Linked DNA regions of Homo sapiens: region 1 is linked to region 2. Evidence: fine-mapped expression QTL. A gene starts in region 2. The other region holds a variant in brackets. All regions are shown on one strand. Distances are between the middles of the regions.

Evidence for each region. PIP is the estimated chance that this variant, and not a neighbour inherited with it, causes the effect.
Region 1: its variant is the best candidate, but not a certain one, in a credible set for the expression of PDE3A in subcutaneous fat (GTEx, PIP 0.52).

The regions. Positions count from the first base shown.
Region 1 is chr12:20,421,570-20,429,569 of GRCh38, reverse strand. The region is part of intron 1 of PDE3A (phosphodiesterase 3A); the gene reads right to left. Among named protein-coding and RNA genes, the nearest start is that of PDE3A-AS1, 55 kb to the right of the region's middle. The variant T/C (reference allele first, on the strand shown) is at 3,623.
Region 2 is chr12:20,364,483-20,373,104 of GRCh38, reverse strand. It overlaps PDE3A (phosphodiesterase 3A), which reads right to left and starts at 4,568. Exons shown (of 16, transcript NM_000921.5): 1 at 2,861-4,568. The coding sequence starts at 3,820. It overlaps PDE3A-AS1 (PDE3A antisense RNA 1), which reads left to right and starts at 2,849. Exons shown (of 2, transcript NR_186033.1): 1 at 2,849-3,264. RefSeq lists a silencer at 3,236-3,530.

The sequences.
Region 1 (8,000 bases), 57 kb before region 2:
GTTAGTTCAGTGAAGATTGCTCTAGGCTTAGGAGAGCAAGTCACAGAGCTTCAGAAACACAGATGTGATCAATGCAATATTCACAACTAAACAGCCTTGCATTCAAAATGTTCTTCATACCACTATTCTCTCAAATTTTTCACCATTTGAAAAAGGGCTGTAGCCTGCAGCACTCTCCCAGGGAACAATTTGAGGCAAGGGTTAATAATAAGAAAACACAGTCAAAAGAATAACTGAAGAAAAAAAGAAGGAAAACAGAAGCCAAACCCACGTATGCTATTTTTCTGACCTCTATTTATCACTAGAACGTATGGGCTTAATTGTAGATGTCAACTTTACAGGATTGAGGAATACCTAGAAACCCCGTAAAGCAATTCACTATGTTATGTATTTCATCTTCACATCGTTTCCATTACTGGAGGTATAAACTGTATAGAGACTTTGAGAGTTCTGTTTTATGCATTTTTTGCAAATTCGACTTCACAGAAGTGAACTATGTTTACTTTGTGTTAAGTGTTGTGTACGTATGTAAAAACATTGAAATTTTCTCAGTAAATGAAGAGATGTTCTTTTGTACATTTGCATTTGTGAAATATAAAATTTCTTGAGATCTCAGCTCTTTGGGTGACTACATATATGTTGGTAACCTATCACAGTTTTTGATGGATCTTGTCAAAAGACTTAGGTTGCTCATTATATTATTTCAGATGACCAAAGTTAGAAAGCTGTTGCACACAACTATCAATCATAGTGGTACGCATTTATACATTGTCCTTTTTTGACCTACTTCTTTATAAGGACAGTTCATCTTGTCATAACTATTATACCAGTATGACTGTCATTAGCATACTTGAGTGTTTATATGTGCAAAAGCATGTATGTTGTTATTGCATATTTTGTTGTGTAAAGTGGCCTATATTCTGTTTTTACATTTCTTAACTAAATCCTCTTTTTAAAATATAAATAAATATCTTTAAAATAATATTTTAGGCCGGGCATGGTGGCTCATTCCTGTAATCCCAGCACTTTGGGAGGCTGAGACGGGCGGATCACGAGGTCAGGAGATTGAGACCATCCTGGCAAACACGGTGAAACCCCGTCTCTACTAAAAATACAAAAAAAATTAGCCGGGCGTGGCGGCGGGCGCCTGTAGTCGCAGCTGCTTGGGAGGCTGAGGCAGGAGGATAGCCTGAACCCGGGAGGTGGAGCTTGCAGTGAGTGGAGATCGCACCTCTGCACTCCAGCCTGGGCGACAGAGCGAGACTCCGTCTCAAAAATACTACTACTACTAATAATAATATTTTAATTTTTTTCAGAATTACATTTTCAGGATTTTGATGTTTTGGGGATTGTGATTTTCTGGATTTTAGACTTTAGAGATTTTACTCTTCTGGGATTTTAACATTCAGAATTATGACATTCAGAATTGTGTCTTTTGGGATTATGACCAGCTCTCAATTTAGCCAACCAGAATTACCTAATTGGATGTATAGAAACAATTCCTTAAATGTATCCACTTTTGATTCAAATAAATTCATTACTGACTTGAACGATGTGGGATTACTCCTGACCTCCTGACCTCGTGATCCGCCCGTCTCAGCCTCCCAAAGTGCTGGGATTACAGGAATGAGCCACCATGCCCGGCCTAAAATATTATTTTAAAGATATTTATTTATATTTTAAAAAGAGGATTTAGTTAAGAAATGTAAAAACAGAATATATTATATATTCTAGATTATAACAAACTGATACTATCCAATGCTGCAAAAGAAAAAAAAATGTGACTGTGCCTTTTAATTCTGGATTTAGATCATCTTCTTTACTTTTTACATAGTCTACCTCATGAAAAAATACATACATTATAAATGTATTAATGTATTAAATGTATTAAATTACCTGTTTCCTATAAAAAATATAAAATTTTGAAGCCTATTTATTGCTTTTTCAAATCAGTTATACAAACTGCTGAAATTGAACATAAACCAATGTCTTAAACTTGGTAATATTCATACAGAATGGCTGATATTTTGACAAGATGAATTTAAAGGAATTCTAAGATCTAGCATATACCTAACCATAAGTACAGCTTATTTCAAGATACAAGAATGAAATATGGAAAGAAAAACATGCCTGTAAAACGTAAAGTCAGTTTCCAAGGTCATACTATAGCTATCTTCTATTCTATTTCCCATTAATACACTTCCATTTTACTCAATCCTTAAAAATAACCCTTAGTGTACTGGTACAAATCTCAAGTATTGTCCATGATAAAATTCAAAAGCACGCAACATTTCAACCCCTCTTAGATAAAAAGCAACGAGAGTTCACGGACAAACACCATGGTTTTCTCTGATCAGTTCCCAACACAATACAATATTCAATGAGTCCTGTATCAAACTATTTTTGCTGACATGCATGAAATCATTCTTAATTACCTGCTGAACCTAAATTGGAAGAATTTCTGAAATTTGGGAAAATAACATTACCCTGTGTCCCTTCTTCATCCAATGTTCCTTGATCCATTCTTAAGATTTCAAAACTAGACTGAATAAAAAGTAAACCAATTATATAGACTTTTAGCTCCTTTCTTAGAATAACCAATAGTGCCATCAGGTCTAATTTTAACCATCCATGCAATCATAGAACAGCCCTAAAATTTTAATGAACTTTTGGGGGATTTAATTCCTTTACTGCCCAAGCCCAATGAGGATATGAATGCAAAAATCTTATTTTAGTGAATGTAACTGAATGTAAGCTTCGGCCATATACAGGAATTCTTATATGATTGCTGCAAGACTCAGCACTGGTACCCATTAGTTTTCACCCTTAATACTGAGTAAAAATATACATGGTACTTTCATTATATTGATTCTACTCTTTGTTTTCTAGGGCAATATATAAGCGTGTCCATTTTTCTAAATGACAACCTTATAAATAGTTGGAGACAAGTGTTTTAGTTCCTATTAGTCTTCTCTACACTATACAGTCCCACTTCCTCCATTTCTCATATTTCCAGACTTCTGGCACTCCAGTTTGTCCAAGTCTTTCCTAAAATTATGGTGTCTTGGACGGAACATGGTATTCCAGCCGTGATGCGGCCAGTGTGAAGTACGTCAACTATGTTACTTCCCATGATGTGGACACTCTTATTTCTATTTATAATGCCTAAGGAATTCTTCAGGGTTTTTTATTCTTTTTTTCTCTTTTAAGCAGTTGCAACATACAGTTGGCTCATATTAAGCTTGTAGTCAACTAAAAGCTCCAGATGTTTTTCACAAACTGAAAATTTTCATATTCAGTTCTCATTCGGAGCCAGCAACCATGAGCTCTAGTAACAAGCAGAGAACTCAGATGTGTAGTTGCCTGAATGAGGGATAAATATGTGAGATAATCCACTATAGTTTGTTACAAAATCTCTTCTAGTTGCCATTCTAATTGCTTAAAATTTTCCTCAACAGCATTAAGTATTTTCCTTCCAAGAAGTCTTGAATATTCAAATACATACCTCTGTATTTTATTACTTATTTTGTATTGAATATGTGCCAGTCCCTATTCTAAGAGCTCGAAATAATTTTTTAGTAATTAACGTAATCTGTATAACAATTCTATGAAATAGGTGTCA[T/C]ACACATTTAACAAATGAAGAAACTGAAGCACAGACAATTTAAGTAACTTACCACAAATCACACAACCTGTAAGAAGCACAGCCAGGATTTAAAACCAGGTTAGTCTCATTCCAGAATTGAGGCTCATAATCATCATATTCTGCCGCTTCTCTACAAATGCTTGGTGAAATACGCATAGTGCCAGACACTTGGGAAAGTAATATAATATCATCATTGTCATCATCATATTTCTATATGTTTGTCTTAGTTCTCTTAAATAGAACTATGCTAAGCAACACAGAAATAGGTTATAGACAATCTTAGAATGAGTTTATATTCAATCCTAAATATGAAAGTCACTTTTCAGGGCTGTTGAAAGGATTAGAAAATTAGCATCTGTAAAGTGCTTAGAAAAACGTCTGGCCTAACTTAAGTGCTAGCTCTTTTTAAATATCAATTTTATAAATGTATTTATTCATACAAAAATGCATACATAAATTCATATTTACAAGTCACAAAGTTCCTTACGGCAAGAAAACAATAAACATTTAAGTGAGTCATTAGGAGACTTCATTTTGAAAGGTGAAATATTCTCTTTAAAGAGACACATGTTGAGACTTGAAGGAGGCAAGACCATCAGAAATATTATATGATGAAAAAAATAAAATCGCTCAGTTTCTTTAGCACCCATCTGCCGGTGGAAAAAAAACCCACTGGCTTTATGTATGTCACCACCTTGTTTAGTAATTAAAGACTACTCCAAAAAACACGCATTACCACCAGACATTATTGGTCACCGAGGCCAATCCAGGCGTGTGCCTCTTTTAAACACTCTAAATGGATATTTTTGGCAACCCATGTGTGTTCCTGCAAATGCAAGTTGATCTAAAAACATGTTCTTTTGTCAGTTCTTTCAAATGAATGACACAGGATTCCACAGACTGTCATATTTGCCTAAGATGAAGTGCTACATACTGTAACAGTAAAACTAAGAGCATCTCATTACTAGAATTTCCTGAGTATGCCAAGTCCTCATTTGGCTTTGAAGTGAGTTTGTTGTGCTGTGCACAGAGACAGAACACAGTGTGGGTGTTACAATGAACGAAATTTAGGAGGGAATCCTATAGTCATTGCTTCATGATCCACTGTCTTGATATGGTTGTTCTACTGTTGATATTGTTCTTTTCAATATTATAATCACTGTTAAGACTTAACAGTTTGTTACTGACTGGTTTTCTCCACAGTGTGAGTGATATAAACTTGCATATTTTTCTATGATTTTCTGGTAAGTAGATATTCTGACACGTATGCCTAGCAGTTCCAACATAAATCATCCATAAGGCAGGTGTAAACATCATTCTACACCACCTATCAAATATTTGTTTTGCTTTACATAAATAGGACCACATCATTTTTTATTCATCTGTGAATCTATATTAATAATTTGCAATAAAAATTTTTATAAAAATACAATCCTGAACATATGTTTAAATTCTTAGCTTACAGAGTAATCAGGAATTCATTTATGCTCCCTTACATCTATTTGTATCTATAGAAAAATTTTTCTACTAAAACAGAAACTTGTGATCTAAGGGAAGTAATTGAAAGAGGGCAGTGGGGAGGTAAAGAAAAGTTGAGAGGCCTACTGATGTAAATTATCCGCTCTCCAAATGCTTTTTCCTAGCTCATGTCTCCATTAATCACTACTTTTTCCTTTTCAACTCACAACTCAAAATTGACTAACTTATTTTATAGCCACCTTATTTTACAGCAAGAACTAATATGATTGCTACAATGTATTAAGAATTTCAAGCTGAGAAGTATCCTTTAAAAGTTTTACTTTCGCAATATGTATTTTTTTAATACTGCACTTACGGTTATGCATGAAACTGCAAAAATCCACTACTTTCTACCTCTGGTTTGTATATGCCTCACCAAATTCCACTTCACCGAACACTGCTATTTCTTCATTCTTAGACTAAACACAATAACTCCACTCACACCCTAGTTATTGCTCACTTGGTTATTACTATAGGCACTATCTGCTCTTTCTATATTTCCAGGACCTAAATAATTTTTTTTTAAATCTACCTTCTGGTCACAGCTTTACTACCTGTAGCCTTACCTTGGGATATGTTTGGGTAGAAGTGCATATGATCTCAGCCAGCTGTCCCTGCATACCACCAGGAGGCTATAGGAAGCTGAAGCACTGTCTCTGGCTCACTTGCTACAGAGGGAACAAAACTGTTAAGAGGAGGCACGGTAATACCGGTGGTATAAGAAGGATGAAAACAAGGGGAAGTAAAGCACAGATTAGCCACTCACCAGCTCTAAAATCTTACGCATGAGAGTCCACTTAACCTTCATAATTATTTCTAAACCAGAATTAATGATTCTGAAAGTCTGTTTTTGAAGGAACACCTTTGTTTGTCCAGATGCATGAGGCTGTTTTCCTCTGCCACAGAGAAACAAGTTCAAGGCATTATAAAAAGTGTACTGTTAAAAAGAAGACTTTAATCTTAGCTGTACATGCAGTGTAAAACATTTCAGAATTTAAAGTCTCAAGAAAGAAGTCAACTAAAACAGATATGAGCACATATGCATAGGTGTTTACATTGTGTCTGTGAAAGAGATACAGAAACAGAAAGAAAGAGAGGGATTGATTTGGGAGAAAAATTGATTTTCTGACACACACAATATCTAATTGCCATTATTTATTGTAACTTTCATACCTATGAAAACACAAGGATTTATTGGGCTCAATTTTACATCTGCATATATTTCCTCTGGATATTTTATAAATAGGTATTCTTCATTAAAATGTTTTATATAAATATATTTTGATCAATGAAAGGCCACTTTTTTCAGAGATCTGAATATAGAATATGGGATTATAATTTGGTACTATATAATCCAAAAATATCAAAAATCAACCCAGGCTTCATTGGCTATACATTCCAGTGATTTCTAGCATTTCAAGTCTAATATCATGCACTACAATATTAAACTATTACTGTAACATAATATAACAAATTAGATAAAGATGTCAGTATTTTAAAATTATGTCCTCCAAATAAACATGTAAGTGTTGGATTCTGACAGTCACAACTCAAGTTTTATAGTTTTAAGAACTGCCTCCAAGGCAAGAGATAAACATACTAGAACTAAGATTGTCTTTTAAAATTCAAACCTTTCTAAAAATATAAAAATATTCATATTTACCTTTGGGGCTGTTTAACAAAATTTGCCTATTTTCTTGGAAGAATGGGGACATGATACACTAAGTCTATATGCGGTTATTCCATGTCCTTCTGTATACATTTTAGAATGTGACTTTGGTGGAAATATGTCTTTTTAAATTATGGTGTTTTTCTGATAGAGAATATTTTCTAAAACAGGCCACTGTTGTATTATAATGGGGGCCCCTCAATAATAACATGCAATGGAACAAAAGGTCTACTTTTATTCAAAGGTGTTAGATTTAATATATGACCTCAACTTCATATTAGATTCCATTCTTCTGATACCCATTTGTAATTACAAAAATAAAAATGGCACTTCAAGGCATAGATTATCTTTTTAAAAGACTCGACAGTTAGTGCCACCCTAAATTTTTTTTTTTTTGAGACAGAGTCTCGCTCTGTTGCCCAGGCTGGAGTGCAGTGGTGCGATCTTGGCTCACTGCAAGCTCCACTTCCCGGGTTCACGCCATTCTCCCCTCAGCCTCCCGAGTAGCTGGGACTACAGGTGCCCGCCACCATGCCCGGCTAATTTTTTGTATTTTTAGTAGAGATGGAGTTTCACCGTGTTAGCCAGGATGGTCTCGATCTCCTGACCTAGTGATCCGCCCACCTCGGCCTCCCAAAGTGCTAGGATTACAGGCGTGAGCCATTGCGCCCGGCCTGCCGCCCTAAAATTTTAAACTAAATATAGCAATCGTTCTACCAAAAACGCAAGTGAAGTTGAGATTTTTCAATTATTCTTATAGAGGAAATTTATACTATTATATTCATAAAACTTCACAATTTACCTGGGAAAGAAAAACACAGTTACAACACAGCCTGAGCCAAATCATCCCAGACAGGCTATTCTCAGAGCTTGAATTTTCCAAATATTTTCCCACTCTTTACTTTACATTGCTCATTACCAATCTATGTTTTTAGCACTTCAAAGGCCAGCTATTCAAAGGAGCAAGAAGCTAGACAGACATGAAACCTGAATACCACTCTCAGGAACACAGAGTGCTCTGGCCCGGCCACAAAACCAGGGCTCATTTCACCTCTCCCACTTCCTGTTAATAGCAAAGGTTAGAAACAGATTCTGTTCCCAAGCACAAAAGTGAGCATGGGTGGTTTTTTTTTTTTTTTTTATTACCAATAAAACTCTGAGGAGTACACA
Region 2 (8,622 bases):
TATTTCCACTTGCATTCACAGACACCAGTGCTACAGACTTACAGTTCTTGAAAGAAAAAAAGGGAGGGAGAGAGAAAAATGTATCTGTCAATTGGTTTCTCTTATGAGAATTTTTATCATATATTCTCTTTGCACTTTTGGAACTGAGGGTCACTGAAGAGGGATAGTTCATCAGTAACCAGCCACTGCCATTCATACAGAGAAGAAAATGATGAAATTCTCTCACTGGTAAGCCTCACAATGAGCAAAGTGCAAATAAATTCTCAAGAGGACTCTGACAGACTGTGCGTTTAAGTTCTTAAATGACTATTTAAAATTCACTTGTTGCCTATGAGTATTGTCTTGAGTTGAAAGTAGACATTCCTTCAGAAAAAAAGCAGATGACATTCAGGGGAGTGTTATATACTTATTTTATAATTATTTTGATGTTTGACTTCACAAAGTATGCAAATGACAGTGGTACACTTTGCACCCTTAATCAGAAGTTTGTTTCCTTATGATAAAACAGATAAGCCATTTACTGTGGGTAGCTCCTGAACTTTTCACACAGTAAGGCTAACGTATATGAGATACTGTCCTATCTTATAAGATAGTACACTGTGTTAGTTTCCACCCACTCCCCACAATTATGCTCAGCAACAACTTTTAATGGGTCATATATAAAAACCAGTCTTCAGTGACACGCACACACTCACCCATGCCCTCATTAAAACTTCAAGTATCTCAATTTCTGCTAAATGTATTCTTGTGTTTCCATCAAGCATAAGACAAAGTTTCCCACTTTAGAATAATCTTCATTAACACAGTCTTTAAAAAAAATAGTGACCAAAGAAAATTACAGAAATAGATTGCGATTATGCATTTTCCAACAGCATTAATCAGCAAAACATTAAATATGCAATGCTTATTTTGATAACTTCGTAGATAATTCAAATTCTCCATTTATCAATTTAAACCAGAGAAACCCAATAAAAATGTGTGGGTTAAATGAATGCTGCTGGTTAATTTACCTAACCACCTTCTTATCTTCTATCCACCCTTAATTTCTTAACTTATAAATGTTAATATAAAATTTTAAAAAATAATTCCACAGGGTAAATGATATCAATTTGGAATCAAGTTGTGATTAAATCCCAGATTTTCCTTAGAAATTATGGTTGTGAATTTTGCAATAGTAACATCCTATTTCCCTATAAGTTAATGAATAGTGTATTCTGAACATACTTAAAGCGGTGGTGTTTTCATTTAAGACATTCTCTCCCATAACTGTGAAAAGAAATTAAAATGGTTAGTTTACCCTCAAATAGATAACTTACTCCATTTTAACAATTTCCAAATTTTTACCAAAACTATCAGTCAGTGGCCTGTTTTCCCCTCCACTCTTAGAGTAAGCTTAAAGACAAGAAACATTTGTTTTATCGAAACAAAAAGCAAATAACTACATTTGCTTTAAAATAAACAGACTATGATGCTGTCATCTACTCTGCTCAATAATGTCAAACAGCCATAGATCTGTGTAATCAACTCCATTTCAGAAACCAACTAGCCACCCACACCATATGGTGACTGCTATTTCTTAGAAATACCCAAATGATTATCCACAGAATAACCTAAAAAGAAAAAGCTTACTTTATCTTAGGATATTCTCTTGCTCCCTAAAGTTGTCCTAATAGTACCACAGGTAGGCATTAATTTAAAGGGAAAAATGTAAATTTCCACTTGCTGTATCCAACCAGCTCCTCCTCCCCATCAAGTGTCAAATCCACTTCAAATAGAGAGGTGAACAAATCTGCTTCAACTAGGGAGGCATACCCTTCGGTATGCTTTTTTAGACACCGTATGCATTTAAAATTGGGATTTGTTCCTTTATGCCCTTTATAGCAACTGTTCTATAGTTTTAAATCACTTAATGATAATAAGGAGACTCATCCCCAAAAGTGACTAAAGTTTTATTTACAACTTTATAATCCCAGGTTCCTCCTCCTCCCACGTTGTGGGAAGATATACATCTCCAGCAATCTTAGAAATGGCCTCCCGAATTAGTATTTCCTGTAAAATCTGCATAAATCCATTTGAATTTATAAATATCCACTTAAGTATGCACATACTAAAGAGAACTGTTTTGTTTTTAGTTGACACTAAAACGCAGTTGACAATTTTGAACAATTCCAAAGTTCAGACATATTATTCCCCAAGTTGAAGTTTGTGATACAAAACACACTAGCATGTAATAATGTATGCCCCTAAATTATATTTAAAAACAAATTGGGCACCATCAGCTGCAGTCTCTCCAAATAAAACTTACTGCAAAACCAGAAAATGTGTATCAATTCCTCACCTTCAAGCACAGCTTGCTTTGCTCTAGAATCTTTTTACTGGTTTTCATAAATGTTTAATATCATTTCATTAAAAAGATTTTACTTTTTAAAAAGTAGAAATCTAGTAAAATCTATGTGTTAAAAAAATCACTCATTGCTAAAATCTAAACTTAATTCTAAAATTTCTGCTAAGGAAGGAAAGCGTAAGAGTACTGAAAAGAGTAGGCAAGCCATACACCAGGTGTAGCAGATCTAAAAAGTTGGCCCAGCTGTGGAAGACCCTACACATGCCATCTAGTTTTGTTAATTGTGTTTCAGTCGTTCAGGTTATAAAACTACTGTGTGAAAGAGAGGGCAAAAAAACAAAAAAAAAAAAACAAAAAAAACAAAAAAAAAACCTGCTAGTTTCTTAATTCTGAAGTTAGACCAGTTTTCTAGGCTATCTTCCCTTTAGTTCCCAGCGCTCGGATTCTCTCCACTCTGCGCCGGTTGCCAAGTGTTTCAAGTTTCCAAGAGCCGAGAGAGGAGTTGCCAGTGCTTACCTGTTCCCTCGGTATACAGGGCAGGGAGGTCCTCCGATGGGACTTGCTGCTGCAGCCGGACATCTCGGCGGACACGACGGAGCTGGACCGCCTCCTCCTCTTAAACACCGGGATATCTTCCTTGGTCCCAGCAATCAGCTGGGACCCCAAATGCTCCCTTGGAGCCGCCTCCGCGGACTGCGGCAAGATTTGTTCCACGTACCTGGCCAAGAGGATCCCCAGCACGCCGGCCAGGTACGCCAGGTAAGGTCTCCAGGCGACCTTGAACCTCTCTAAGGAAATGAGGGACACGGTCCTGACCGCGCTAGTCAAGGCGATCATGAGGACGCCCAGCCTCAGCCTCAGCACCAGCCATGTCGCGGCGGCCAAGCAGCTGAGCACCACCCCCGCGGCGGGGAGTGAGAGTAAGTGATCCTCCCCGACGCCCAGCCCAATCTGGACGAGCGCTTCCCCCCCGCAGCAGGCGGCCAGCAGCGCGACAGCCAGAGGCAGGCGCACCCCGGCGCGCAGGAGGTACAAGCCCATCCAGAAGAAGGCACACAGGAGACTGAAGAGCAGCGCCGAGGGCTGCAGCCAGGGGCTGAGCCGCGCACCGCCCCCGGGAGCACCTCCCCGAGGCCCCGGGAAGACGCCCCCTTCTGCTCCCGGGGCTGCTTCCTCCTCCTCCGCCGCCGCCGCCTCCTTACACTGCTCCAGGTCACAGCCGACCTCCCCGCGGACCAGCCTCACCAGCAGCGCCAGCAGAAAGGACAGGGAGCCCGCGCACAGCGCGGAGGAAAGTTTCCGAGAGCTCCGGAGCGGCTGCAGCACCAGGTCTCCCCAGCAGCCACGGCAGCCCGAGTCCCGCGGCGATGCGGGGTCCGCACGATGGTGGCAGTCCCGGCCCGCCGTGGGGGCTTGACTCACCCCACTGTGGACGGGCTTGTCCCTGACTCGTGCAGCGTCGCCGGGCACTGCCATGGTATAGGGTGCCCTCTTCACTGAATTCCCAGTGGCCCCCCGACGCCCCCGCCCCGACCCACGCGCGCGCGCGCACACACACACACACACACACGCACGCACGCTCTTCCCAATTCCACCCTCGGAATCCTTCTTCTCCCCAGGCCCACAATCCACTGAAAGTTTCAGCTTTCGAATAACTCCTGGAGAATGCTAGATGCTCCAATGAGACTTCTTCAAGTTAAAGGCTAGCACGCTCAAGTTGAAAACAAGCACGGGCAGAAACGATCAGGATTCCCCTTTTCTCTCTTTGAATATCTTTCACAGATTCTCTGCTCCACCCCCACCCCCGACTTATATCCTCCGGGGTCTCTTCCTACTTCAGGATTTCAAAAATTGCCCAATGCATCCCGCGCGCAGGAGCCGCTGACGCTGGAGGAGCCGGGGGCGCAGGGCGGGCTCCGGGCCATTCCGAGGCGCAGCTCGGCGCTGCGCTGCGCTGCAGCGCGCCGGGCCCGCGGCAGATGGAGGTCTCCCTTCTCCTCCTTCCTGCAGCTCTTTTTCTATCACTCTTTCTTTCTCCTCGGCCGATTCTCCCCGGCACGGCCCCAGGACGCGAATCGCCATTCCCTGGGGCAGAAAGCAAAGCCTCCCCCGCCTCTGTCAATCCAATTCATGGCAAAGGATGGAAAAAAAAAAATGGACAAGGGGCTGAGAAATAAGAAGTTGCTAAGTCCCGTCGGAGAGAGAGCCAGACCGAGAGACTAGCGGCAGCCGCAGAAGGGAGGGAGGGAGAAGGAGCGAGTAAGAGAGGAAGGGAGGGTGAGAAGAAAGGGAGGGTGAGAAGGGAGAAGGAGATTTGCTTTTTTTTTCCCTCCCCACTTCTATTTGATGCAAGGTTGGTGGTGATTTGCAGTTTTGCAAAGGGGAAACGAGTGGCGACGACTGCTTAAAATTGTATAAAACTGGCAACTGGAGTGATCGACAATTCCGCTTTCTTTCTTTAAGGCAACTCCCTAGGAAAGCTTTCTCAGCCGAGCTCCCGCCCCCTCCTGCGGAGGAGGCGCTACCCTCAGCTCGATTGCTCCTTTGCTGGGAAAGCGGCCGGTTCACCCTACAGGCTGGAGCAGGGGCTGCTGAGGCTGATCCACCGCGCAGCCCACCGCAGCCCCGGGGTGTGGGGGGCTGCGGCTAGCCCTGAGGCTGAGCTCCCTAGAACGTTGGAAGGAAAAAAAAAAAAAAAAGATTGTGTTTGCCTACTTGGCAGATGAGAGCCAACATACTTTCTACTGTCCCTGAAAATGACAGCCACTTCTACTGTCTGATTCAAAGATGTTCCCAAGTCAGGTACAACAGCAGTCCAATTTCAGGTGACAGTGTCATCCTTTGGTCGCTCCTGCTGGAAGGTCTGCTTTATGAGAACCCAAGCCTGGCCTGTTGGTTCAAATGATGGAAGAATCAGCCTTACCTAGACCACAATAGTATAAAAAGAAAGGAAGGAGAGGCAGCAGTCATTTAAATCCAGTGCATGAGTATTACACAATAGTTTTTGACTGTGGAAAGTAAAATTACATTGAGATTAAGTGACCGTATCCTCAAAAAAGGTTAACAAAGTTTAAAAGCCCAGATAGTTCATCAAAAAATAAAGAAAAATCTCAAGGGAGAGGTGAGGATAGGTGGGTTAACACTAGGAGAGATCTTAGAAGACTGTCTATGGCTGCAAAATACTACATCTTCGAGCAAAGCATATGAAAAAAATCAGGACCTTAGTTATTAATGAGTAAAGGTTCGTGTACTGCAGCAGTGTGATATTTGAGAAACTAAAAGAAAATTTTCAAGCTAACCTTTTTTTGGCAGATTATGAAAAAGAATTCAGTATCTGTTCAATGGACTTAAACTCTATTGATGTTCCCTGGGATCTAGTTGTCTTTTTAATATGATACTCCACTTTTAACATGGCTATCTTAGATGTCATTTGCCCTCACTAATAATAATCTTAATAATCCAATTTTGTCTTAATTATCTTGACATTCCAGGTTAAAGTGTATTTACAGCCTAGAGCATTTAGATAATTGATTCAATATGCCACTGTATTTTGTATGTAGACATGAAGCAATAAAAAAAGCCAAAAGGAGATCCTTGAGATAAAATTAATTTATGGGGACAGGGGGAGAAGATGACTTAAGTTTTAAACAGCTTCATGGGAAGCAGCCTGTTCTAGTAGAAGGCAGATATACTATAAAGGTATAGCTTCTCTCTGTCAGATGTCCAGAATTGTGCTACCACACAGGAGTATGAGTTGGGCAGCTAGTCAATGGCAGTGGGCACCATCTGTTTAATAATTAAGGAAACAGGAGCAGCAATGTCTTTGCCAAAGACAAATGAGCCCCCTAGCACGCACACATACTTTCATGAGTTTCCTTTTTAGACATATGATTCATATGCCAGATCCTACCTGGGACACATCGGAGTGAAAAACCTTGATTGGAAAATCATTCATATCTGTTGGCATCAAAAATAACATATTAAAATAATAAACCAAAAATCTGGCATATATCAAGGTTAAAAAGAAAAGCATAGTAAGGGAAATTTTAGAATATTTCAATTTTATCTGTCCCCTACCCCCACAATTATCTCAGTTCTTTAGAAAATTTAATATAATATTATCATAAAAACTGAACACTTAAGGTATGGGAAGCAGATGTTTTTTAAAAGTTGTAACAGGAAAAAATGGCATTTGCTAATGGCAGCAAAACAAGAATATTCTAAATCCATGTGTTAATAACATCCTGGAACTCTTCAATAAAATAAGGAGGCAATGTCCTGGCATCCAGGTTTCTTTAACAAATCATAATCAAAAAGTTATTTGTCCCATCAAAAGGAAAGAAGGTAGATTTTTCTCCCCATACCATCCAGAACCCAGAGGCAAGTGAACAAAGACAACAAAATGCTAATGTTAGAGAGATGCAGAAACCTGCAGGGCTATACTAACTGAAAGAAGCGACTAATAATGTACCTTTAACAGAGTATATTAAATGAAATAAGCTGCAATACATAAACTGGATAGGGAGCAATCACATATAAACACTGCCTCTTTTCTACAGATAGTGGTGAGTCCTAGTTCAAGAAAGTGACAACACAGCCAAAGAATAAGGAAAATGTTGTACGTGCAGAAAAATAGTAGAGCATGGACAACAGAAATAAAAATTTAAGTTTTACTTGATAAATCTTCCACTTAGTCAAATCTAGCAAACATGTTTTTACAGTTTTTTGGGAAAAGGATCTAACCCTTCACATTTGAGCTTTATTAAATATAGTTAAGCGTCAGGGGATTCTATTGTAAAATTCAGTAAGTTTACGTTCCGTAGTATGGGTTCAATCATTCTCTGCTACCTATCTGATTATTATATATTTATATCTAATAGGTACCTAAAACATAAGGTATCCAAAACAAAATTCTTAACTTACAATTCCCTTCCTACCTATCCCCTACCCACCCAAACTATATTTTCTCAATCTTGTTACATCCCAGTAAAGAACATAACCATCTACCTAGTTGCTCAGGCCCCAGAAGAGGGAACGGGTCTTGATTCTTTCCTTTGTTTATCTTGTTTTACTTTTAGTCGATTAGGAAATCCACTTGATCCTGTCTCTAAAATATATTCTAAATCCATTTACTTTTCACTGTCCCTCTTATAATAACCTGCCAAAGACCCATCATCTTCCTTGGCCAGGACAAGTGCAGTAACTAACTGATCTTGCCCTACTTATAATTCATTTTCTATATAGCAGAGTAACACTTTAAAAATATAAATTGAATTATGTCCCTCCCCTATTTAAAACTACCCAAAGGCTACCCATCGTACTTGCAGAATGCAGTCCTCATCACAGTCCTCATGACAGTCCTACAAGGACCTTCATGATCTTTCCAAGTAATTCTCTCTGACCTCTCCTCCTATTCCAATGCTCCTACTTCACTGGTGAAGTACTATTTATTAGAACTTTCTTCAATGACAAATAGACCCTCTGCTGTCCAACATGGTTGCCACTAACCACATGTGGCCATTGAATACTTGAACCATGGTTGGTGTCACTGAGGAGCTGAACTTTTGTATTTTATTTTAATTTAAATTTTAATACATTCACTTGGCTAGTGTCTAAAGGAATGGAGAATGCATCTCTAATACCTCAGGCCACCTTTGTGTTCTTCATACATGTGAAATGGGAAACCCTGTTCAGGGCCTTGGTATCCAGAGATTTTCACATAGCTGGCCCCTTGTGCTCCATCAAGTCTAACCTCAAATGTTACTTTATTTTAGAAAGGCTTTTTTTCCAAGAATCTTATCAAAAATTTTTGGACACCCCATGTACACATACACACTTTTTCTTTCACTATCATACTACCCTGTTTCATTGTATTTATAGCACTTATCACTATACAAAATGGTCTTGTTCGTTTATTTGTTTTCTCACTTATCATTTATCTCTGTTCACTAGGGTGTTAGTGCCATGTGAACAAGGACTCTGAATAGCTGTCTTGTTTGCTGTGTATCTCCAATTACCAGAATAGTGCCTGGCACATGGTGGAAGCTTGTCTTAGTCTGTTTACTGTTGCTATGAAAGAATACCTGAGATTGGGTAATGCGTCATCAGGTGATTTCATCATGTGAACATCACAGAGTATACTGACACAAACCAGATGTGTGACCTACTACACACCTCGGTTATATGGTATAGCCTATTGCCCCTAGGCTACAAACGTGTACAGCATGTTACTGTATTAAATACTCTAGGCAACTGTAACACAATGGTAAATCTTTGTG